Linked DNA regions of Homo sapiens: region 2 is linked to region 1. The links come from fine-mapping of genetic effects on gene expression. A gene starts in region 1. The other region holds a variant in brackets. All regions are shown on one strand. Distances are between the middles of the regions.

What was found. PIP is the estimated chance that this variant, and not a neighbour inherited with it, causes the effect.
Region 2: its variant is the best candidate, but not a certain one, in a credible set for the expression of CDKN2A in lung (TOPMed, PIP 0.78).

What each region holds. Positions count from the first base shown.
Region 1 is chr9:21,972,564-21,977,948 of GRCh38, reverse strand. CDKN2A (cyclin dependent kinase inhibitor 2A) reads left to right here and starts at 3,092. Exons shown (of 3, transcript NM_000077.5): 1 at 3,092-3,271. The coding sequence starts at 3,122. RefSeq lists an enhancer at 2,535-2,584 and silencers at 2,765-2,864, 3,085-3,134.
Region 2 is chr9:21,853,272-21,858,656 of GRCh38, reverse strand. MTAP (methylthioadenosine phosphorylase) reads right to left here. Exons shown (of 8, transcript NM_002451.4): 6 at 3,787-4,026. Among named protein-coding and RNA genes, the nearest start is that of MTAP, 53 kb to the right of the region's middle. The variant C/T (reference allele first, on the strand shown) is at 2,984.

The sequences.
Region 1 (5,385 bases):
ATGTTGTTTTTATATGGTTGCATCTCCCATCTTCTTCACCAATAGCTATATATATTTTTCACAAGAGCTGAAAGAGTTCTTGATGTAGGAATCCATGGTAGAGTTTCAGAGAAATCCCTGAATTCACTGAAAGTTTTATCTAGAAATACATGTGCAAGTGAACACATCTTTTTTAAAAAAAATCATTACCTACTTTCTTTTTTGAGAAGAAGGTATTTATTTCAACAGACTCTTGAAGGAGCCTACTCTTCCCACTCTCCCACCCCCATTAAGAACCACTGTAGGCCGGGCACGATGGCTCATGCCTGTAATCCCAGCACTTTGGGAGGCTAAGGTGGGTGGATCACCTGAGGTCAGGAGTTCGAGACAAGCCTAGCCAACATAGTGAAACCCCGTCTCTACTAATAATACAAAAATTAGCTGGGTATGGCAGCATGTGCCTGTAATCCCAGCTACTCGGGAGGCTGAGGCAGGAGAATTGCTCGAACCCGGGAGGCGGAGGTTGCAGTGAACCGAGAGAGATCGTGCGGTGCCATTTCACTCCAGCCTGGGCAACAGAGCGAAACTCCATCTCAAAAAAACACACAAAACAAACAAACAAAAAGAAAGAACCATTGTATTAGTGATGGAAATGTGTTCCCTCCCTCCCATCCTGGCAACCACTTTCTTCCTCCTCCATCATAAAATATCTTAAACTAAACTAAAATAATTTTATTTATCGATAGTTTGAATTTTCCCTATCATTGCTACACAGCTAATTGAGAGGTACCCCGAGGAAAATATAAATGGTACAGTAATGCATTGTAGATTTTAATAACATACTTGACATCCCAAATTGTTTTCATTGGCTTCATTTTAAAAACTACATGTTTTAAAATCAAGCAGACACTAAAAGTACAAGATATACTGGGTCTACAAGGTTTAAGTCAACCAGGGATTGAAATATAACTTTTAAACAGAGCTGGATTATCCAGTAGGCAGATTAAGCATGTGCTTAAGGCATCAGCAAAGTCTGAGCAATCCATTTTTTAAAACGTAGTACATGTTTTTGATAAGCTTAAAAAGTAGTAGTCACAGGAAAAATTAGAACTTTTACCTCCTTGCGCTTGTTATACTCTTTAGTGCTGTTTAACTTTTCTTTGTAAGTGAGGGTGGTGGAGGGTGCCCATAATCTTTTCAGGGAGTAAGTTCTTCTTGGTCTTTCTTTCTTTCTTTCTTTCTTTTTTTCTTGAGACCAAGTTTCGCTCTTGTCTCCCAGGCTGGAGTGCAATGGCGCGATCTCGGCTCACTGCAACCTCCGCCTTCTCCTGGGTTCAAGCGATTCTCCTACATCAGCCTCCGAGTAGCTGGGATTACAGGCATGCGCCACCAAGCCCCGCTAATTTTGTATTTTTTAGTAGAGACAGGGTTTCGCCATGTTGGTCAGGCTTGTCTCGAACTCCTGGCCTCAGGTGATCCGCCTGTCTCGGCCTCCCAGAATGCTGGGATTATAGACGTGAGCCACCGCATCCGGACTTTCCTTTTATGTAATAGTGATAATTCTATCCAAAGCATTTTTTTTTTTTTTTTTGAGTCGGAGTCTCATTCTGTCACCCAGGCTGGAGGGTGGTGGCGCGATCTCGGCTTACTGCAACCTCTGCCTCCCGGGTTCAAGCGATTCTCCTGCCTCAGCCTCCTGAGTAGCTGGAATTACACACGTGCGCCACCATGGCCAGCTAATTTTTGTATTTTTAGTAGAGACGGGGTGTCACCATTTTGGCCAAGCTGGCCTCGAACTCCTGACCTCAGGTGATCTGCCCGCCTCGGCTTCCCAAAGTGCTGGGATTACAGGTGTGAGCCACCGCGTCCTGCTCCAAAGCATTTTCTTTCTATGCCTCAAAACAAGATTGCAAGCCAGTCCTCAAAGCGGATAATTCAAGAGCTAACAGGTATTAGCTTAGGATGTGTGGCACTGTTCTTAAGGCTTATATGTATTAATACATCATTTAAACTCACAACAACCCCTATAAAGCAGGGGGCACTCATATTCCCTTCCCCCTTTATAATTACGAAAAATGCAAGGTATTTTCAGTAGGAAAGAGAAATGTGAGAAGTGTGAAGGAGACAGGACAGTATTTGAAGCTGGTCTTTGGATCACTGTGCAACTCTGCTTCTAGAACACTGAGCACTTTTTCTGGTCTAGGAATTATGACTTTGAGAATGGAGTCCGTCCTTCCAATGACTCCCTCCCCATTTTCCTATCTGCCTACAGGCAGAATTCTCCCCCGTCCGTATTAAATAAACCTCATCTTTTCAGAGTCTGCTCTTATACCAGGCAATGTACACGTCTGAGAAACCCTTGCCCCAGACAGCCGTTTTACACGCAGGAGGGGAAGGGGAGGGGAAGGAGAGAGCAGTCCGACTCTCCAAAAGGAATCCTTTGAACTAGGGTTTCTGACTTAGTGAACCCCGCGCTCCTGAAAATCAAGGGTTGAGGGGGTAGGGGGACACTTTCTAGTCGTACAGGTGATTTCGATTCTCGGTGGGGCTCTCACAACTAGGAAAGAATAGTTTTGCTTTTTCTTATGATTAAAAGAAGAAGCCATACTTTCCCTATGACACCAAACACCCCGATTCAATTTGGCAGTTAGGAAGGTTGTATCGCGGAGGAAGGAAACGGGGCGGGGGCGGATTTCTTTTTAACAGAGTGAACGCACTCAAACACGCCTTTGCTGGCAGGCGGGGGAGCGCGGCTGGGAGCAGGGAGGCCGGAGGGCGGTGTGGGGGGCAGGTGGGGAGGAGCCCAGTCCTCCTTCCTTGCCAACGCTGGCTCTGGCGAGGGCTGCTTCCGGCTGGTGCCCCCGGGGGAGACCCAACCTGGGGCGACTTCAGGGGTGCCACATTCGCTAAGTGCTCGGAGTTAATAGCACCTCCTCCGAGCACTCGCTCACGGCGTCCCCTTGCCTGGAAAGATACCGCGGTCCCTCCAGAGGATTTGAGGGACAGGGTCGGAGGGGGCTCTTCCGCCAGCACCGGAGGAAGAAAGAGGAGGGGCTGGCTGGTCACCAGAGGGTGGGGCGGACCGCGTGCGCTCGGCGGCTGCGGAGAGGGGGAGAGCAGGCAGCGGGCGGCGGGGAGCAGCATGGAGCCGGCGGCGGGGAGCAGCATGGAGCCTTCGGCTGACTGGCTGGCCACGGCCGCGGCCCGGGGTCGGGTAGAGGAGGTGCGGGCGCTGCTGGAGGCGGGGGCGCTGCCCAACGCACCGAATAGTTACGGTCGGAGGCCGATCCAGGTGGGTAGAGGGTCTGCAGCGGGAGCAGGGGATGGCGGGCGACTCTGGAGGACGAAGTTTGCAGGGGAATTGGAATCAGGTAGCGCTTCGATTCTCCGGAAAAAGGGGAGGCTTCCTGGGGAGTTTTCAGAAGGGGTTTGTAATCACAGACCTCCTCCTGGCGACGCCCTGGGGGCTTGGGAAGCCAAGGAAGAGGAATGAGGAGCCACGCGCGTACAGATCTCTCGAATGCTGAGAAGATCTGAAGGGGGGAACATATTTGTATTAGATGGAAGTATGCTCTTTATCAGATACAAAATTTACGAACGTTTGGGATAAAAAGGGAGTCTTAAAGAAATGTAAGATGTGCTGGGACTACTTAGCCTCCAATTCACAGATACCTGGATGGAGCTTATCTTTCTTACTAGGAGGGATTATCAGTGGAAATCTGTGGTGTATGTTGGAATAAATATCGAATATAAATTTTGATCGAAATTATTCAGAAGCGGCCGGGCGCGGTGCCTCACGCCTTGTAATCCCTTCACTTTGGGAGATCAAGGCGGGGGGAATCACCTGAGGTCGGGAGTTCGAGACCAGCCTGGCCAACAGGTGAAACCTCGCCTCTACTAAAAATACAAAAAGTAGCCGGGGGTGGTGGCAGGCGCCTGTAATCCCAGCTACTCGGGAGGTTGAGGCAGGAGAATCGCTTGAACCCGGGAGGCTGAGGTTGTAGTGAACAGCGAGATGGAGCCACTTCACTCCAGCCTGGGTGACAGAGTGAGACTTTGTCGAAAGAAAGAAAGAGAGAAAGAGAGAGAGAAAAATTATTCAGAAGCAACTACATATTGTGTTTATTTTTAACTGAGTAGGGCAAATAAATATATGTTTGCTGTAGGAACTTAGGAAATAATGAGCCACATTCATGTGATCATTCCAGAGGTAATATGTAGTTACCATTTTGGGAATATCTGCTAACATTTTTGCTCTTTTACTATCTTTAGCTTACTTGATATAGTTTATTTGTGATAAGAGTTTTCAATTCCTCATTTTTGAACAGAGGTGTTTCTCCTCTCCCTACTCCTGTTTTGTGAGGGAGTTAGGGGAGGATTTAAAAGTAATTAATACATGGGTAACTTAGCATCTCTAAAATTTTGCCAACAGCTTGAACCCGGGAGTTTGGCTTTGTAGTCCTACAATATCTTAGAAGAGACCTTATTTGTTTAAAAACAAAAAGGAAAAAGAAAAGTGGATAGTTTTGACAATTTTTAATGGAGACGGGAGAAGAACATGTAGAAAAGGGGAAATGATGTTGGCTTAGAATCCTAACTACATTGGTGTTTAATATAGGAACATTTATTTATATAACATTTTAAAGTACTAAATTCATATTAGTATATTATCAAATGGATATATTATCAAATGGGTTTAAGCATCCTACACATTTTAATTCAATTGATTCATTTTCTTTTTGCTTTGGATTTCTATCATGATTTAAATATTTACATATGGGTTACTTTTTAGATTTTTCATACTATGAAATATAAGAAAAACCTTTAAGGCTAGTTTTATGACCAAGACGAAGGACTTCATTGAATACACAAAACAATAAATATACTGCAACATTTTGTCTTTCTTTTTGTAGCTGCAATTTGGTTTGCTTATACTTTCTCTTTGTCTCTTTGAAAACTGAGTCAGTTTCACTTTCTCAGGACAGGATTTAATAACCATAATATAATTTAGTATAATTCCTTGATTTAGGCAAATTATGCAATTTGTGTTTAGTATGAAATGTACCTAAAAATAAGTAACTCCTCTTTAACACCACCATCCTCAAACTAATATAACAAATAACAGTTATCCTAAAATAAATTGTCTACTTCCACCATGCAGCACTCAAATTTTAAGGTTGCTATGACTGCAGACAGTATTTTAAAATTCCTCTCTGGAAATGGCTTTGTTTCCAAGATGATTTAGGAACCAAAGAGGTGACCATCTCTTGTTTAATGAACTCTCAAATCATAAACCTGGGAAGTGTTTTAGTTTCCTACTGCTGCTGTTACAAATTATCACAAATGTGTTAGCTAAAACAAACACAAAATTATTATTTTACAGTTCTAGAGATCAGAAGTCAAAAA
Region 2 (5,385 bases), 120 kb after region 1:
AGGCGGTTGGATCATGGGGTTGGATTTCTCACGAATGGTTTAGCAGCATCCTCAGGTGCTGTTTTACTGATAGTGAGTTCTTGTGAGATCTGATTGTTTAAAAGTGTACAGCACCTCTCCTCTCACTCTCTCTTGCTCCTGCTCCCACCATGTGAGATGCCTCGCTCCTTTTGCCTTCCAACATGATTGGAAGTTTCCTGAGGCCTCCCCAGAAGCTGAGCAGATGCCAGCATCACGTCCCGTACAGCCTGTAGAACCATAAGCCAATTAAACCTCTTTTCTTTATAAATTACCCAGTTTTAGGTATTTCTCCATAGCAATGTGATAACAGACTAATACAGATTTCAATATGGTATCGGAGAAAATATCTCAGATGTATAATGGGTTAATATGGTCTAGAAAGATGTGGCTGTTCTCTTCATGTCCACAGCCGAAGGGATTACAATGTTAAAACTGTTGCTACACTGGAAAACCAAACAGGTACGTTTCTCCTTAGAAAATTATTCCAGCTACTAAAGAAAAATATTATGGAATTAAAATACCACCATTTTTATGGCTCCCAGTGAATTAATGGATTGGCTGCTAACATCACAAACCGAACCAAACAAAATCCCAAATAAACCACTCATTATGTGCTTCCTGATGAAAAAATAAAATGCTACCTTAAGACACCTGAATCTGATTAAATTTCTAAATCTAGCTACCAATTTATAGACAATACAGAGGACAGAGAAGCCTATTAAACTACTCCAAGGAGATGATTTCAGCAATTCAGACTGTGGGAAACTCAACAGGACAAATGATCTGGTTCCTTCATAAAAAGCTTGCAACCAAAAGAATAATTTAAGGCATTTAACCAGAAATTTAAATTCTGGCTGGGTATATTAAAGAATTATTATTGGAGAATGAAAATGATAATGTGCTCATGTTAGATACCTCCTGAAGTGTTTATGGATAAAATTATTGATGGGAGTAATAATCATATTGGTTGTAAGTTAATATAATGGTTGAAGCTAGATGCTGAATTCATGGAAGCTCGTGCTATTAGCTACTTCTGTATATGACTAAAATAGCTTCATAAGAAAAAGTTGAAGAAAGTGAACACAAAATTACCATCAGAGATAGAGTACTTGACATGCCTTCCTATGCTTCGAAGAAATCCAGCATTCAGGGACACAAGGATTACATCTTTCTATTTCCTTAAGCATAGTCCAGATCCCACCCACAAACACCAAGATGTGTATAGGAAAAAATGATGAACACTGTAGCAGAGGGGAGTTTGCACTACTATGGGAACACAAAGCAGTGACAGGCTGGGTATCTGCCAGGCACATGTAAATGATATGTTTTAAGCTGAGTCTTTGAATGCAGACATGAAGCATCCAAGAAATTTGCCTTGTATTTACTCATTTCCTTATATATTTTTCCTGTGACTGGTTATTTCTGTATAGACACTGACCTCCCTTCTCTTTGTTCCAGCTGTTGGGCTTCACCCAAAATGTCCTTCCTACTGACCTTCCCAAAATAAACCCTCTCTTCAAGGTGCAGTTTAAATGCTTTTCCCTGATACTACCCACCTCTCAGGCCCCCCACTCCATCAGAGCCACCATCTGATGACCACCCTCTTACAAGCCAGCATTATACTAGCTTTTTTACATATCTCATTTGGTTTAATTCTTCCAGTAATCTTTCAAGGTCTAACTGACTAAACAATGACTAAACAACCTCCACTCCTCACCCAGAGCCCTGGCTTCATTCTACAGAAGAGTAAACAAGTGAAATAACTCGCCCAATGTGACAAGCAAATGGAGCAACTCAAATCTGAAGATGGGTTTAGAGAACTCCAAATCCTTTTTGCCATGCCAGGCTGCAACACACGATTGGCTGAAATAATGCCATCTTTCTGTGGGCCTTCCTTGTAGCATTTAACACTGTCTTCAAGCCTTTCCACTTACAGAGCTTAATTTCTCTGCTTTTCAATAAAGTAGCTCCAGCTGACTATTTCCCCAACCTCATTTGGCTACTAAAGGAAATCACTGCTGGTTCTACAAAGGAGGAGACATATGTTATTAGACTGAGCAGAAAGCCACAGGCAGGAAGCAAACCGCTCTCAGGGTGTGGCAGGGGCTGGAGTTTCCTATTAATTGGAAGCAGCTTCTTGACATTACGAGGCTGAGTTGTTCCTTAGGTTACCAAAGCTGCCAAATAAGATATTATGTTGTGACTTAATGTAATAATTTGCGAATCTCTTACATAAAAGGCATCCTAGTACTAAGCAAACAGTTTATTACACTGAAGAGTCATCATAAGGAATTCATGAAAAACAAAGAACCTGTGTTCATCTATGACCCAAAACACTGTACACATTAGATAGTAAAACAAACTCTCTAAAACGGTGGTACAATATTAGGCCTCTTTGGAGATGTCACTTACCCTAAATGTGCTCAGAAAGTCACCCCTAAATGTTTTCCTTACTTCAAAAGTGACTGCAGTTTTGTCGTCCCTTTATCTTAAAATGAGATAAATGACAGGACGAACGATCTAGTTTATTCAAGTAACACAAGGAATAAAAAGAGAAAGAGGTGAAAATTAGATTAAAAGAGACAAGAGGTAATCATTAAAATACAACATATGGATTGTAAGGGATTCTGATTTGATCAAATTGTTAAAAATTATGAGACTGAAGGAAAAAGGAATAGTCTGAATATTTGATTATATTAAGAAATTAATATCATTATTTTTGTACAATGATGGCATGGTTATAACTTAATTTTAAAAAGACCTTTTAGGAAAATATTTACTTCACAATGAGGGCAGGGGAGAAATAGGTAGGGACATACCTATCACACAAGATTGGCCATGGCTAATTGTGGAACCTAAGTGATGGGTACCTGGAATTCATTATATTCCACCCTGTACTTACACAGATGTTTAAAGTTTTGTTTTGTTTTGTTTTGGAAGCTGACCTCATTGTTCCAGTGTC[C/T]TCAAATTCCAGCTGGATCCTGCTGCCTTCCCTGCCTGAACCCCTCACTGTCCTTCCATCTGAAACCCTTACCATGGTCTGTATGGCCTGGCCCTACTGTATTGCATCCCTCCTCTCTCTCCCTTCTCCCCAGTCTCCCTCCTTTCCACTCTACTCAATCATGCCCTTCTTGCCCATCACACTTAAAACAGGAAGGCTTCTCATACTTCAAATATTTGGTCTGGTCAACTCTATTCAGTTGACCTAGTGTACCCTTGTACCTCACCATTCTATTTCTTTATAACCGTTAGCTTTCTTATATTGGTTTGCTTAACTTCTATCTCCATCCGACAGAATGTCGGCTCCTTAAGGACTTCTCTGTTTGTTGTCACATTTCTATGCTGAACAGAGTATCCAGCCACGGTACGTTAAATAGATGGATGTGAACATACAGCCCTCTCATGAGGAAAGGGTTAATAGATTTTTTTCCTTCTTGAAAACAAAAAACAGTAGCATAGCAGCAGAAATTGGCAATCAAAATACACCTTTATCCTGAAAATAAGGCCCAAGTCTTAGTATGATTCTCAACACATCTACCTGCCTACAATGTACTATTTTCACTACTGATCCTTGGGTAAAAGTGTCTCTTTCTTTCCTTTGATCTTTGTTCTTACCTTCCAATGGAACTACAGAAAATATTAACAACTTCAAAACCTTGTAGAAAGGCACTTTCTGAAACTAACGTAATAGAAACAAACAGTTAAGACACCCTATTGGCACCCAGAAACCCATGCTATATGTGCTTAGAAAAGAATTCCACCTACTGCTTCCTCGTGCTCCTTCCAGCAGTCATAATCTGTCGCCATGGCGATACTTGCGTAACAAATTCCAGCCTCCTTAGCAAGAACCACCTCTGGAACTGTGGTCATGTTGATAACATCCGCCCCCCAGGTGCGGAACATGAAGCTTTCTGCCCGGGAGCTAAAACGAGGTCCCTCGATTGTGACCATTGTCCCCTTTGAGTGGCACCGGAGTCCTAGCTTCTTAGCAGTCTCTATAAGAACCTAGAAAAGAAAAACCAGAAACTTCAAAACATACTAGCACATGCACAACTTAAGGCTGCACTTCCCCCCAATGTTTACCAAGTTGATTTCTTAAAGATGATTTGTCACTATAATAAATGCCTACTATCTGCCAGGCTCTCAGAAAAAACCTAGAGGACCACAGAAGGGTGTTTCCTGGACCCTTTCTCATTCACATAATCCTGTTTCCCCAGCCCTTTGCATGTAGAAACTAATAGCTACACAAGCAAGCACTGAGCTCTTTCTACTCGCCAGGCATTTGTTTATATGCTTTAATCTCATTTGCTTCTTAACAACTTTAAGAGACTAAGCTGGTTTGAGAATACAGACTGGAGTCTTAACTTTTAACCTCGCAGGCTAAGCTAAGGTGCCTCTCGTCGCTTATCTTCTCAAACAGGTGTGTTGAGTTCTATTTCCAGGCTTCTGAAAAGTTAATTCTCATTACTTTTAAAAATACAGAATCTGAAGACTTCTGTAAAAGCTTTTGCTGGTTAGAAAGTGATTTCTCTTTTGCCTATTGCCTTTCCACAGAGTTGTGCTGATTGTTTTTCTGTTCACAGGGATAAACATCTTGGAATTCCTTTAGTGGCAAGGCTAGGCATGGATTTTTAGAAACATCATTGAAAAGTTCGATCCTTTTCTCCAGTGTTTTATTTAATACTGCACATCTAATCTTCAAGTTATTAATTACCTTCATTTTTTCTTAGCTTATTCAATATTCCCTTTTAATTAAAAAAAAGTCTTTTCAACTTAACTGTTAACTTACTGAAGCACTGTTGAAAAATCATCTCTGTATGCCTTAGTTTTCTCAAGTGTAAATTGAGAATAATGATATCGCATAATTCAATTGTATGAGGAAGATTAAATGAACTAAGGTATATACAAGCATAGAAGCATGCCAGGTGCGCTGTAAACACTGTATGCACTAAGCTGGTCTTCTAACAATCATTAATACTGGCAGCTTCTACACATATTTGGCTAACCTTCCTGGGATACTATATAAATAAAGTGGAGTGACTCAAAGTCAAAGTCTCCAATCTGGGCAAAGTCTCACCTGCACATGTGTTCATCACATAAACAAATTAACCTATTTCCTTAAAAAATAACTTACACTATGCCACTGCAATGGGAAACAGAATTTTCACAAGAGTCTTGGCAACTCAAAATTTAGCAAGCTATGGACAATGAACAGTTGATGCTACATCATGTTTATCTTATAAATGCTGAAAATAAAATTATGCTTAATTAACACTTTTCCCTAAAAAGTATATGTTATAAATGCAAAAGCCTAAATCTCTACCCCACCCCCTTTTCCCCCCTAAAGTTAAGACATAACAAGCC